Linked DNA regions of Homo sapiens. The protein of the gene in region 1 interacts with the protein of each later gene in a pairwise test. Each region holds a gene or a part of one and is shown in the gene's direction. Other genes may lie near its edges.

Region 1 (3,500 bases):
GTATCTAGCGGGTGGTAGTGGAAGAGGTAAGTAGCCAGATTCTAAATATGCTTTGAAGGTAGACAGGGTTTGCTGATGGATTGGATGTGAGGTAAAGAGAAACAGAGGAATTAAGCATAACTCAAAGGTTTTTTTTTTTCTTGGACACATTCCACATTTTATTTACATTTTCAGACTAACTTTGGGCTGGGTGCTGTGCCTCATGCCTGTAATCTCAGCACTTCGGGAGGCCAAGGCAAGTGGATCACTTGAGATCAGGAGTTCCAGACCAGCCTGGCCAACATGGTGAAACCTTGTCTGTACTAAAAATACAAAAATTAGCCAGGCGTGGTGGCATGTGCCTGTAGTCCTAGCTACTCGGGAGGCTGAGGCAGGAGGATTGCTTGAGCCCAGTAGGCAGAGGTTGCAGTGAGCTGAGATCATGCCACTGCATTCCAGCCTGGGCAACAGAGAGAGGCTCCATCTCAAAAAAAAAAAAAAAAGACCAACTTTAGTTTCAAAATTATATCTCCATATATGTATCCCTTTTTTGTTGATGTCACTTAACCTTAAGTGCATAGTTTGTTAAAAAAAAAAAACTGTAAGCAAATATTTACCATGTCTGTTACGTGTAACACACATGAACAGCTTTTAACAGAAATTCATCAACTCCCCCCCAACATTTTTTATTATAAGATAGGTATCAAAACAATCCTGAACATATTTTTCATACTACTAGTAGTCAGCACCCACACCACTTCAAAAATTAACACATTTGTGCTGGATGTGGTAGTTTTTACCCATAATCCCAACACTTTGGGAGGCTGAGGCAGGCAGATCACCTGAGTTCAGGAGTTCGAGACCAGCCTGGCCAGCATGGTGAAACCCCATCTCTACTAAAAATACAAAAATAAGCTGGGCATGGTGGTGCATGCCTGTAGTCCCAGCTACTTGGGAGGCTGAGGTAGGAGAATCGCTTGAACCTGGGAGGTTGTAGTGAGCCAAGATCTCATCACTGCATTCCAGCCTGGGCAACAGAACAAGACTCCATCTCAAAAAAATAAAAAAAATTAAAAAAATCAAACACATTTGTGACAGTGTTCATTGTACCTGCTACTTTTTTTTTTTTTTTTAATTTAACGGAGTCTTGCTCTGTCGCCTAGGCTGGGGTACAGTGGTGCGATCTTGGCTTACCACAATCTCCGCCTCCCAGGTTCAAGTATAATCCCAGTAGCTGGGATTACAGGTGCCCGCCTGGCTAATTTTTGTATTTTTAGTAGAGACGGGGTTTCGCCATGTTGGCCAGGCTGGTCTCTCTAACTCCTCACCTCAAGTGATCAACCCTCCTTGGCCTCCTAAAGTGCTGGGATTACAGGCGTGAGCCACTATGCCTGGCCAATACCTGCTACTTTTTAAACAATTTCAACTGCAGCTCTCTTTCACTAAGCAAGATGGATAAAGCATGCCATTTCTGTTTTCTTTTTTCTTGAGACAGAATTTTGCTCTTGTTGCCCAGGCTGGAGTACAATGGCACGATCTCGGCTCACCACAACCTCCACCTCCGGGGTTCAAGCAGTTCTGCCTCCGCCTCCCAAGTAGCTGGGATTACAGGCATGGGCCACCACGCCCTGCTAATTTTGTATTTTTAGTAGAGACAGGGTTTCTCCATGTTGGTCAGGCTGGTCTCAAACTCCTGACCTCAGGTGATCTGCCCACCTTGGCCTCCCAAAGTGCTGGCATTAAAGGTGTGAGCCACCTCTCCTGGCCTCTGTTTTCTTTTTCCTTTCCTTTTTTGTTTGAGATGGGGGTCTTACTCTGTCACTCAGGCTAGAGTGCAGTGGTGCGATCTCAGCTCACTGCAACTTCTGCCTCCCGGGATCAAGCGATCATCCTACCTCAGTCTCCTAAGTAGCTGGGACTACAGGCGCGTGCTACCACGCCTGGTTAATTTTTGGATTTTTTGTAGGGACGGACTTTCACTATGTTGGCCAGGCTGGTCTTGAACTCCTGGCCTCAAGTGATCTGCTCGCCTGAGCCTCCCAAAGTGCTGGGATTACAGACATGAGCCACTGTGCCCAGCCCTGTTTTCTTTATTGAGATTTTTAGTCTTTAGAAACACACATGCTTCCACTGCCATCTGACACTTCTTACCACGCTTTCATCTTGTAAACCTGAATTATATTTCGAGTACTCCAAGTTTATGTTTAAATGACAGTACCTTAACAAGAGAAAAAAATTGGGTTGCATTTTTCCTGTTACCTGAAAACATAATGGGTGTACATATATTAAATATATTCTTACAAATGTCCAGGTCATGTTTACCAGCCGGAGTTCTTTTATTTAACGTGTGGGTATTTTGCATTGTGATATTTAATCAAGACATTAACACGAGTAGAAGGTTGTTGATATAAGACAAGTTTGAGATCCACTAAAATTAATTGTTGTATGTTTGTCCTTCCAGTGGCTGTGGAAGCTTCATATTTTCTTTGGACATCATTAGACGTCTTAGCTCCTGAAGTACAACTTTAATGCTATATGAATTTTGTCATTTTGCTAACACTGGTGTGCTGCGGTCATCCACCATCCCACTGGAGTTATTTATTCCATTCATATTAATTCTTGTTACAAATCTAACTGATGGGGGAGCTTCTGGGTATTTGGGTCCACTTTCTATTTTCAGGCTATATATTCTTTTTTTTTATTTTTGAGACAGAGGCTCGCGCTGTGGCCCACACGGGAGCGCAGTGGCGTGATCTCGGCTCACTGCAACCTCTGCTTCCTAGGTTCATGTGATTCTCCTGCCTCAGCTTCCCGAGTAGCTGGGATTACAGGTGCACACCACCACACCCAGCTAATTTTTTGTATTTTTAGTAGAGATGAGGTTTCACTATGTTGGGCAGACTAGTCTCAAACTCCTGACCTCGTGATCTGCCCTCCTTGGCCTCCCAAAGTTCTGGGATTATAGGTGTGAACTGCCATGCCCGGCCTATATTCTCTTTTCATAATTTGTCCTTGGTGGCCCAATAATCATGCCTGTCCACCTTGTAAATGTCATATCTTCATCATCTTTAAGGCCCCAGTTAATCATACCATTGCCTATCAATAGCTGCATAAGCATAACTCAAAGGTTTTGACCTGAGAACTGGAAGATACCATCTGGAGTGATGTCATCATGTGAGAAGGGCAAGGCTGGGGATAGAACAAGTTTTGGGGGAAAAGCAAGCAATTGACTTCGTGGTTTTTTGTTTTGTTTTTTGTTTGTTTTGAGACAGAGTCTCACTCCGTCTCCCAGGCTGGAGTGCAGTGGCATGATCTCGGCTCACTGCAGCCTCTGCCTCCCGGGTTCAAGTGATTCTCAGCCTCCCAAGTAGCTGGGATTACAGGCGTCTGCCACCATGCCTGGCTAATTTTGTATTTTTAGCAGAGACGGTGTTTCACCATGTTGTCCAGACTGGTCTCAAACTCCTGACCTCAGGTGATCCACCCACCTTGGCCTACCAAAGTGCTGGGATTACAGGCAT
Region 2 (3,374 bases), on another chromosome or scaffold:
TTAGGATCCAGAGCTAATGAGGCTACAGGCCCACATTTGGTTCCAGAGGGCATCATTTTCTCCTCTAGCCACTCAACGGCCTTGTCTGGTTGTCCTACCTTTAGTCATAAGATGTCCATGGCACAGGCTGCAGCCCAGAGTAATTGGCTTCAAGACTAGAATCATCTCCAGAAGCAGCCATGCTCTGGTGGAGGGCCAGTAGCCTTGTACTTCTAGATCAATGGTGAGTGCAGGACTCTCTGACCACAGCCATCGAGTACACCCATTGCTGCCTTTGGACCTGGACATCTGAGGCCACTGCCCTGGGGCCCATGTTTTAGAGGGCTCTCTTGGTCTCTCTTCTAGCCACACTCTTTCACACGGGGTGAAGAGTCTGTGGGCCAAAGGGCCTAGCCCAGGCAGAGCCCACACCCCTCTTGTAGACTATGCTCAAGCTGCTTAGGACCCCAAACGCCCTGCCTAAGTGCATTCCAGAGCATTCTCAGGCCTCCGATGCAGATCTGTGCTCCTGAGAGTGGCCAGGCAGACTAGGCCTGAGGAGTGGGGTAGGGGCCATGCACCCAAGGTCCTAAGGCCCTTCCCAGTGAGGGCTGGCACCAGGAACTGGAAAAAAAAGAGGGCCAGGTTGTGAGCCAGGAACTTCTATCAGCACTTATGTTCTGCCACCCACAAAAGTCAGGGGCGGGCCTGACAAGAGGTAAGGGGAGCTAGGGCTGGCTAGGTAGCTTTCTCCTAGAATAGAGAGCCTAGTGCTAAAGAGGAAATGACTAAGCCTGGCTTGTTAGAAAAACCAAGCCTTTGGGTGAAGGTAGGAGTCATTGCTAGGTCAGAGGTAAGGTGCCAGGACATCACAGCCTCCTGACAGAGCTAACCCCATGTGCAAGACTGCCCACAGCAAATTCCCCTGCCCACCTCTGAAGGTTATTATTTTTATGAATAGCTACTACTGGGTGAGTGCTTAACAGATTCTAAATAATTCAGTTACCATCTAATTAACCTTCCACAGCTCTAAGGCAAATAATGCAATTCTCCATATACAGACAAGGAAATAAAGCTCAAAGAGGCCATCTATACGAAGTGCCCCAGGTCACCCATCCTATAAGTGGTAGAACTAATGTGCTCACTCAGGCAATTTAGGCTGCGATGCCCCAATGGAATTATAAAGATAAACCGATAGCTACGAAAACAGAGCTCTTTACAGCAAAGAGGACCTACAAATTTGAGTATTACTAAGGCTGTTATCCTCTCTGACAATAGGTTCATTGAATCATTCAGTAAACATTTATTTTAATTTTTAAAAATATTTATTTATTTGTTAAGACAGAGTCTCTCTCTTTTGCCCGGGCTGGAGTTCAGTGGCGTGATCTTGGCTTATGGCAACCTCTGCCTCCCAGGTTCAAGTGATTCTCCTGCCTCAGCCTCCCTAGTAGCTGGGATTACAGGTGTGTGCCACCACTCCCTGCTAATTTTTTGCATTTTTAGTAGAGACGGGGTTTCACCAAATTGGCCATGCTGGTCTTGAACCCCTGACCTCAGGTGATCCCCCCGCCTCAGCTTCCCAAAGAGCTGGGGTTACTGGCTTGAGCCACCATGCCCGGCTATTCAGTAAACATATAATTGTCTGTGTCTACATGCCAGAAACCTTGCTGGGTTATGAGACAGAAAGATGAGTAAGTTACAGCCCTTGTCTTCAAGAAATGTAGAGCAGGGGTTCTCAAACTTCAGCAAGCCCCAGAATCACCTGGAAGACTTGTTAAATCACAGATTGCGAGGCCCGAGCCCTGAGTTTCTGATTCAGTGGGTCTGAGTAGGGTCCCAGCACGTGCATCTCTAGCAAAGTCCCAAAAGATGTTGATGCTGTTGTCCTGGAGAACCCACTTTGAGAACTACTTTGAGAACCACTTTGATAAAAGTTAGGGCAATCAAGATCCTCTCCATAAGGCAACGTAGAATTGCACTGCTCTCCCTTCCCTGAGCAAGAAGCACAAGGATAAAACGAACCTCAGAGTCACCCTTGAAGGAGGAAACCATCCCAAAGCTTCTTCAAGCGCTGCAGAGCCATAGATGGTGGCCTCGCTGAAGTCTCCCTGTGAATGGGAGGCAGGCGAGCACCATCCCGTGAGCCCTCATGAGTGTGTTCGGTGTTTTATACTCCTGGCTGGCTGACACGCTTTCCTCTAGCCCCTCTAGCTGCCCATCCCTGCAAGCCCACAGCAGTTACCCTGTCCAGGTTCAAACCTGGTGACATGCTTGGGGATCTTACTACCAACCTGAGGGAAGGGGCCAGAATTCCCGGGAATGTCTTTTCAGATTACTTGCATTTGATTTCAGGATGCATAAGAGAGGGCAGATGTCCCACATTGGCATGAACTGAGAATGAGTCGTCCACCTTGTGCTTTTCCTCTCCTTCCTGCAAAAAGTCCCAGAAGACGATCAGCAAGGAAAGCAGCCGCTAGGGAAGGCAAATAAAAAATAAATAGAAATGCACAATTGGCTGGGAGCCCCTAAGGATTAACTAACTAATTAATCCCACAACAGTTTGACCAGGAACTAATTAATCCGTTAAGCACTTGGAGGGCCCAAGGCCCTGGCCAAGAGCAGGGAGAGGCTTCACTTATCTCCGGAGGCTGGCGCGGAGTGGGACTGTCCTCCAGGCTCTCCAAGGAGGGCCTGGGTGAAGACTGTCCTTCCCAAAATCAGTGGTTCCTGCTGCATCAGAAATCTGCTTCTCAAGCTATTTCTTGAGCCAGACTCCTGTGTCACTCTGCCCAGGGAACCGAATCAAAGAAGAGAGCCCTGAGGAAAGGCAGCTGGGCTTCAGCCCCTCCAAGGATGGGAGCCACAGAGTGTTAGAACTGGAAAAGACTTCAGCCATCTCGTCCTTCCAACCCACTTTCCAGATGAAGAATGAAGTTTCCAGGTTACCTGGTGTGCTGTTTGGACCTAGAGACAACTGATGTTTCTTTCTGATCATTCCTACATAGCACCCAGACAGGGAGAATTCAGATCTCTCTTTAGGTGCTGTCTTTAACTCCACCTCAGAAGTCACCAGGTGCAGAAATCTTTCTTAAAGCAATGTAGTCTGTTTGACTAAGATCGTCATTTTTTAATATGATTTTTCATGAGCTTTGGTAACAAATTTAAGGCTGGTCACAACATATTCAGGTGGCTCTAACATAGATCTTTCCTCTCATTAGCTTTTCTGACACTCTTTTTAATCTTCTGTTTCCCTGAAACCCAGGTCACCTCATGTTACAACCTGATCTCCAAAAAATCTGACAGCAGCCATCTGGGGATGTAAGCTACTGTTAACCTTTCCCAGAGAATATTTTTCTTTAGACTCCTCTCTCATTACAGAACAAGAGACTCTATAG
Region 3 (2,599 bases), on another chromosome or scaffold:
AAATAACATTGTACTCTGGGAGATAGGGCAGAAGCTCAGTATGTGGTGGATGAGAACTAGGGTAGGTAAATTTCCCTTTGAGCAATTAAATGTCTATAATTACTTCAACCTTGTGGGGATGAAGTATTGAACACTTACTGTACCTAAAGCAAACTGCTAGGTAATAAGGATTACAACAATTGCTAAGCCATGATTTGTATCCTTGAATTGCTTAAAATATAATGTGAGTTAAGATATTAAAAAAAAAGACTAATACAGTAATTATAAGTATTATAAGAATTGTGCAAACGAGCTAGAAGAACTGAAAGGAGGAAAAAATCATTTCTGAGTTAATCAGGGACACTTCAAAAGAGCTTTTCTGTTTTATCTGAATCTTAATAGATTGATAGATTAGATGTATGTCTTACTGACTTCTCTTCCTCTTTTTTTTCTTTTTCTTTTCTACAGTACTTTACCTCGTGTGGGCCTTTATTCCTGAATCTTGGCTAAACTCTTTAGGTTTAACCTATTGGCCTCAAAAGTAAGTTTAATATATTTCTTAAATGAGGATATAATTAATGCTGTTTTGAGGAGTCATATCATTTCTTAAACCTACCCAAATCTTAAATATTTGTTCTCTTAAAATTCATGAATAGCCATATAGAAATTGAAAGCTTTTTAAAGATCGCTATTGATACATCTCTAATTAAAGATGGTAGCATGAACACACATGTTTATCTCCATCCATTTCCTCCAAAAATCTTGTTAAAATGACCCTACAGGAAAAAAAAAAAAAACTGAAGATACAAACCACAGAAACAATAGTATAGCAGAAAAGAGATATCAACCACATTTTGGAAAGTGGATTGTGATAGGTGAGAGGTAACTGCCTTTGTTTCTGTGATTTTCACGTTGCTGAAGTAGGGAAGCCAGCAAGAATATTTGTGCCTTAGAACTCCAGAATAGCTCAGACATTGGGGTACCAGGTAGCTCTTTAATTCTGGGTTGAACTGAAAACATGTTTAAAGACCATATGAAGTCTTCAGCCTTCAAATCTCCCTCAGCCCTCAAAGCTGGGAGGCCTGCCCTGCCCTCCCCTGCAGAAAACAGGAGTTTTACTCTCTGGCAAGGTTAAGTAAGAGTCTCTAGCATGGGGGCCACTAAGTCTGAGTGTGGGAATGCGGCATCTTACTGAAAACAGGGAAGTAAGTGAAAATCTACATGGCTTAATGAGAAGATTTACCTCCTGCTCCATCTTCCCTCTTGGGGCTTCGAGGCTTATATCACCCTACTGCTCACAGAAAAAGATAGATAGTTCTTTCCTGAGGAAGCTGACCAGCCCGAGAGAAAGGATCTATAATTTCTGACATTTAGAGGACCCCAGTGAAGTGGCCAAGTCTCTCAGAGTGAGGCTCACCAGTTGACCATCCCTGCCCACATACACATAGTGCTTCCAACTCACTTGTTAGCACTTCATTTTTAAATATGAATGGACTACTCTAAGTTACCAGACATTAAAAGAAAGCCTCTAGCATGAAATGAAAAAGCAGAAAATTAAAGGGAATTTGAAGGAAATAGAGATAATGCAGGAAACAGAAAAAAAAATTTAAATAACATAAAATTCTCAGAGGTAAGAAACAATTATAACTATGAAACAAGAACAGAATGCTATGCAAACAGGAAATTACTGTATTTGGAAATTGTAAACATGATAACCAAAATTAAAATTTTAATTGAAAGACTGGAAAATAAAACAAAGGTAATCTCTAGAAGTTAGAACAAAAAAAAATGAAAATATAAGAAAGTATAATCGTTAAAAATTCAAACTATTAGAAGTTCCAGAAAGAGAAAATAATAGAGAACAAATCATTTAAAAAAAAAAAAACATCTGGCCAACATCTCAAGACCCCATTTCTACAAAAAAATTAAAAATTAGCCAGGTGTGGTGGTGTGTGCCTATAGTCCCAGCTACTTGCAGGGCTGAAGTGAGCTCAGCAGATTGAGGCTAGTGATCTGTGATCATGCCGTTGCACTCCAGCCTGGGTGACAGAGGGAAATGCTTTCTCAAAAAGAAAAAAAAAACACTCAATGAAAAATAGCACTCCATGTACATAATGATACTGAGAGGCATAATAGAGTCCTATCAGAGAATTTGAGGCTCTGGTATTGGTGGATTCCTGGGAAACCAAGTGAACAGACAAAAAGATGTAATTATTCCAGAAAAAAAAAAGTTGTACAAGAAAATATATAATAATAATGTACTAAGATCCTCAGTTGCAAAATTGTTTATGTAGGTACAATTATTTCTAAAACCTGCTGCTATAATGAGAAATTGCAATGTAAGTATAGAAGAGGATAGGAGGAGGTTAATTCCTTATCTCCATATTAGGAAGCCTAGAGAAAATGTCTGTAATGGAAAAAAATGAGGAAATAGTAATATGAGCATGTTTTGTAGCAATGAGGAGGTAAGTACCAGAAGACAGCTCAAGTGCTCAAAGCATTTCTTTTTGGAGAGTGAGACCCCAGGGTTGGGATGGTGGGATAGAGGACTGCAGTTTTTCACTGTAAGCCTTGTGGAACTATTTGTCTCTTATGTACACATATTACTTTATAAAATTTA
Region 4 (3,500 bases), on another chromosome or scaffold:
GGTTCCATACTACACGGAGTTCTTGCTGCATACGCTCTACCCCTCTGCCCACTCACAAACTTTTGCGCAAACCACATTTCCTTTTTGTTTAATCAGATCTATAATCAATACTTCAGACTCATCATATGCTGAAGATGTTTCTGATCAGTTCTCCCTAGATGTGAGTCCTCTCTCCATTAACGTGGCTCACCATCTGCAGAAGCAATAGGTCCTCTTGAAGACTGTCAGATAAGACTCACCCAGCTTGCTGGAGAGTTGAAAACCCAATTACATTTATTTTACCTTGATGTTTACAACTTTAAGTTAATTCTAGTGCCACTAGTTTTTAAACTCCATGTTTTAAAATAAATACATTGCCTTCTAAGTCAATCAAACACAGTTTTTGGACTCAAAATTAATTTATGGCAGTGTCTTATTAAGCTCTAAATAAAACCTTCCTCTGCTTTTAGGAAAGAACGCTCTGCCAGGAGATGAACAGGCTGACCATTAACAGTGGACTAGTTTTTAAATGTAGTGTGTATTATTTCTTTTTTTTTCTGGGGGTTCTGTTTTTATTATTAATTCATGAAAAAGTAGCATCAGAAGGGATCTTCAAAGTCCTAATATAAGAATCTGCGGTGACCATCATGTTGTTTTTATTTTTTCAAGAGATAGGGTCTTACTCTGTCAACCAGTCTGGAGTGCAGTGGTGCCATCATAGCTCATTGCAGCCTCAAACTCCTGGGCTCAAGCAATCCTCTTACCTCCTGAGTGGTTGGGACTACAGTTGTGTGTTACCATGTTTGGCTAATTTTTATTTTATTTTATTTTTGTAGACTCAGGGGTCTCACTATGTTGCCCAGGCTTGTCTCAGACCCCTAACATCAAGCAATCCTCTCAACTTAGCCTCCCAAAGTGCTGGGATTGCAGGTGTGAGCCACAGCACCTGGCCTCGTCTTACTTTCAAATATCCCAAACAATGCTGTGTACACTCTCTTAGCATTTAGTTATTTGCATTTGTGAACAGCTCCAAAATCATAAAATTCTTTCTTTATTGCATTAAACTTATTTTTTTCTTATAACTTTTAGGGTTGGGCAGAATCAAATTTCTCTTCCATCTGCCAGCCTTCAAATATTTGAAGACAGATATGTTCTGTGTCCAAGCTAAGCAACTCGAATTCTCCCATTTTTTCCTCACCAGACTTTATCTCCAGATCCTTCACCATCTCCCTCACCTCTGGGCATGCACTCTTTGAACAACTTCCTTTTTTAAAATGTGACATCCTGAACTGATCATAATAGTCCAGATTTGTTCCAAAAACAGTGCCGAGAAACTACGCCTCCTTCCTCCTGCGTACTGTACATCTGTTAATGCAGCTCACATTTGCGCATGTTTTGCTGGCAGCCTTGTCCCGCTCAAGTTATTCTGAATTATCAAGCTGATATACTTGCCTCCTTTTAAAAAACAGACTTCAAGTTTCTAGAGGGCAGAAACACTAAGTCTTAGACCTCTGTGTGGCATGCAAGGTGTCCCACAATCTGACCCCGCTCCAGATTTTAACTTGCCTTGCTATACTCCTCTGCATAGACCATTGTTCCAGCTTAGTGGTCCGCTCGCCATTTTCTTCACTGCTGCTCCAACCTCCACCATGTGTCAGAATTACCTACAGTTTTCACACAACACAGATACAATTACATCTCTCCACGACTTTAAAACATTGGATACCTCACACTGGAAGGGACACACAGAGGTCTTCACAGCATGGGCCCTGCCTACCTTTCTAGCCTCATGTTTCACCATCCTTCTCTTCCTTTCTCCCCAGGCCAACTGGGAGTAACTAACTGCCTGTCTTCTAAGAACAGAATATATCATGAGTGTGTTACTTGCTGTGGTCTGGTTTAATCCTAGTTAGGAATATGTGTTCCCTATTGGATTATAAATGCATTTAGGGCATGGTTAGTGTTTTATTCATCTTTGCATCTCTAGTCTAGCATCAGACCTGGCAGAGAGTGGATTTTAATGAGTGGTGGTGGAATGAAGGGGGATGGATGGTTGCTGGGTAGGTAGATGCCCTGTCTCCCATTTGGGCTATAAGACTTAGAGAGCAGGGCTCAAGTATAATGTACGGTGCTGCATCTCCACTGCTTCCAGGGGAAGGATTTCAGTCAATGTCTAGATCATCCAGGTCTCCTCCAATGTGTACACGTTCTGAGCCTGTACATTCAGGGAGCGCAGGTGAAGGTGTAGACATGTGCACGTGGCTTTTTTCAGGTTGGCCTCATGACTCTTCCTTCTCTGTCTCTCTTCCCTCCCTCCTTCTTCTCCAATGTTTCTCTCCTGTGCCCCTCCCCCACCACCTGCTGTTCCTTCCCTGTCCATCTGTCCTCTCTGCAGTCAGTGTCTGCTTCCCTGTGTGTGTGGAAGTGCCCTCGGAGACGGAGGCCGTGCAGGGCAACCCCATGAAGCTGCGCTGCATCTCCTGCATGAAGAGAGAGGAGGTGGAGGCCACCACGGTGGTGGAATGGTTCTACAGGCCCGAGGGCGGTAAAGATTTCCTTGTATGTTAGACTGCTGACTCTGGCCTTTCTTCTGCTGGCCTCTGCTGTTCCCAGCCTGGCTCCTGACAGTCCGGGGGATGCCAAGCTAGCAAACACTGGCTCCTTCTCTTCCAAACACTGACAGATCCTCAGCAGATAACTGACAGCCTTAGTGAAGCCCCAGCTTCTGTGAGAGAAAGGGCACTGGGCCAGCTGCAAGCACCCTTGATTATGGGCTGGAGGAAGCAGAGGAAAGAGATATGCTATATTTAAAGCCTACTATGTGATAGGCGCCCTACCACACATTTTGCAGGTGTTTTCATCTAATCTTCTGTGCCATCCTATTATATGCATTAAATTCATAAAGAAATTGGAATAACACAAAGCATCATTATGTGAAATAACAAAGGTTAGCTCCTTTAACTCCTGCAGTCCCATTGAAATAGGAATGACAGGGATGACAAAGAGTGATCCAAGGGTGACATTCACCCGGGACACCCAGCACAGCCACATCAGTGAGTCAATTATGTCAAACAGTTCTCTCGTGGATACTTGCTGTGCCGAGTCTCCTAAGTGGCTGAACCCCCAGACTTATCCATGATTTGGAAACGAAGAGATTCGCTCCTGGCAGAGCTGGGAGTCTTCCAGATTCTGCTCCTGCACCATAGCCAGTGTCAGTTCTGGGTGGTTGGTGCCAGTGGCAAAGTGGTTGTATATGTGTGTGTATATATATATATGTATGTGTGTGTGTATATATGTGTGTGTGTATATATATATATATATATATATATATATATATATATATATTCTCTCTCTCTCTCTCTCTCTCTCTCTCTCTCTCAACGGGGTCTCCCTCTGTCACCCAGCTGGAGTGCAGTGGTGTGATCTCGCTTACTGTAACCTCCACCTCCCAGATTCAAGCGATTCTCCCACCTCAGCCTCCCCAGTAGCTGGGACTATAGGCACCACCACCATGCCCAGCT

What was found. The genes of interacting proteins can lie anywhere in the genome.
Region 2: the proteins of UBIAD1 (region 1) and CPLX4 interact in binary tests that used the Homo sapiens proteins (3 or more experiments, as listed by UniProt).
Region 3: the proteins of UBIAD1 (region 1) and PIGP interact in binary tests that used the Homo sapiens proteins (3 or more experiments, as listed by UniProt).
Region 4: the proteins of UBIAD1 (region 1) and SCN3B interact in binary tests that used the Homo sapiens proteins (3 or more experiments, as listed by UniProt).

Annotation. Positions count from the first base shown.
Region 1 is NC_000001.11:11,276,198-11,279,697, forward strand, and holds part of UBIAD1 (ubiA prenyltransferase domain-containing protein 1), read left to right. Parts: intron 1-2,216; exon of another isoform or gene 2,217-2,676; intron 2,677-2,979; exon of another isoform or gene 2,980-3,078; intron 3,079-3,500. UniProt on the Homo sapiens protein: Prenyltransferase that mediates the formation of menaquinone-4 (MK-4) and coenzyme Q10. MK-4 is a vitamin K2 isoform present at high concentrations in the brain, kidney and pancreas, and is required for endothelial cell development.
Region 2 is NC_000018.10:59,298,276-59,301,649, reverse strand, and holds part of CPLX4 (complexin-4), read left to right. Parts: intron 1-3,374.
Region 3 is NC_000021.9:37,067,473-37,070,071, reverse strand, and holds part of PIGP (phosphatidylinositol N-acetylglucosaminyltransferase subunit P), read left to right. Parts: intron 1-447; coding exon 448-520; intron 521-2,599. UniProt on the Homo sapiens protein: Part of the glycosylphosphatidylinositol-N-acetylglucosaminyltransferase (GPI-GnT) complex that catalyzes the transfer of N-acetylglucosamine from UDP-N-acetylglucosamine to phosphatidylinositol and participates in the first step of GPI biosynthesis.
Region 4 is NC_000011.10:123,644,625-123,648,124, reverse strand, and holds part of SCN3B (sodium channel regulatory subunit beta-3 precursor), read left to right. Parts: intron 1-2,374; coding exon 2,375-2,538; intron 2,539-3,500. UniProt on the Homo sapiens protein: Regulatory subunit of multiple voltage-gated sodium (Nav) channels directly mediating the depolarization of excitable membranes.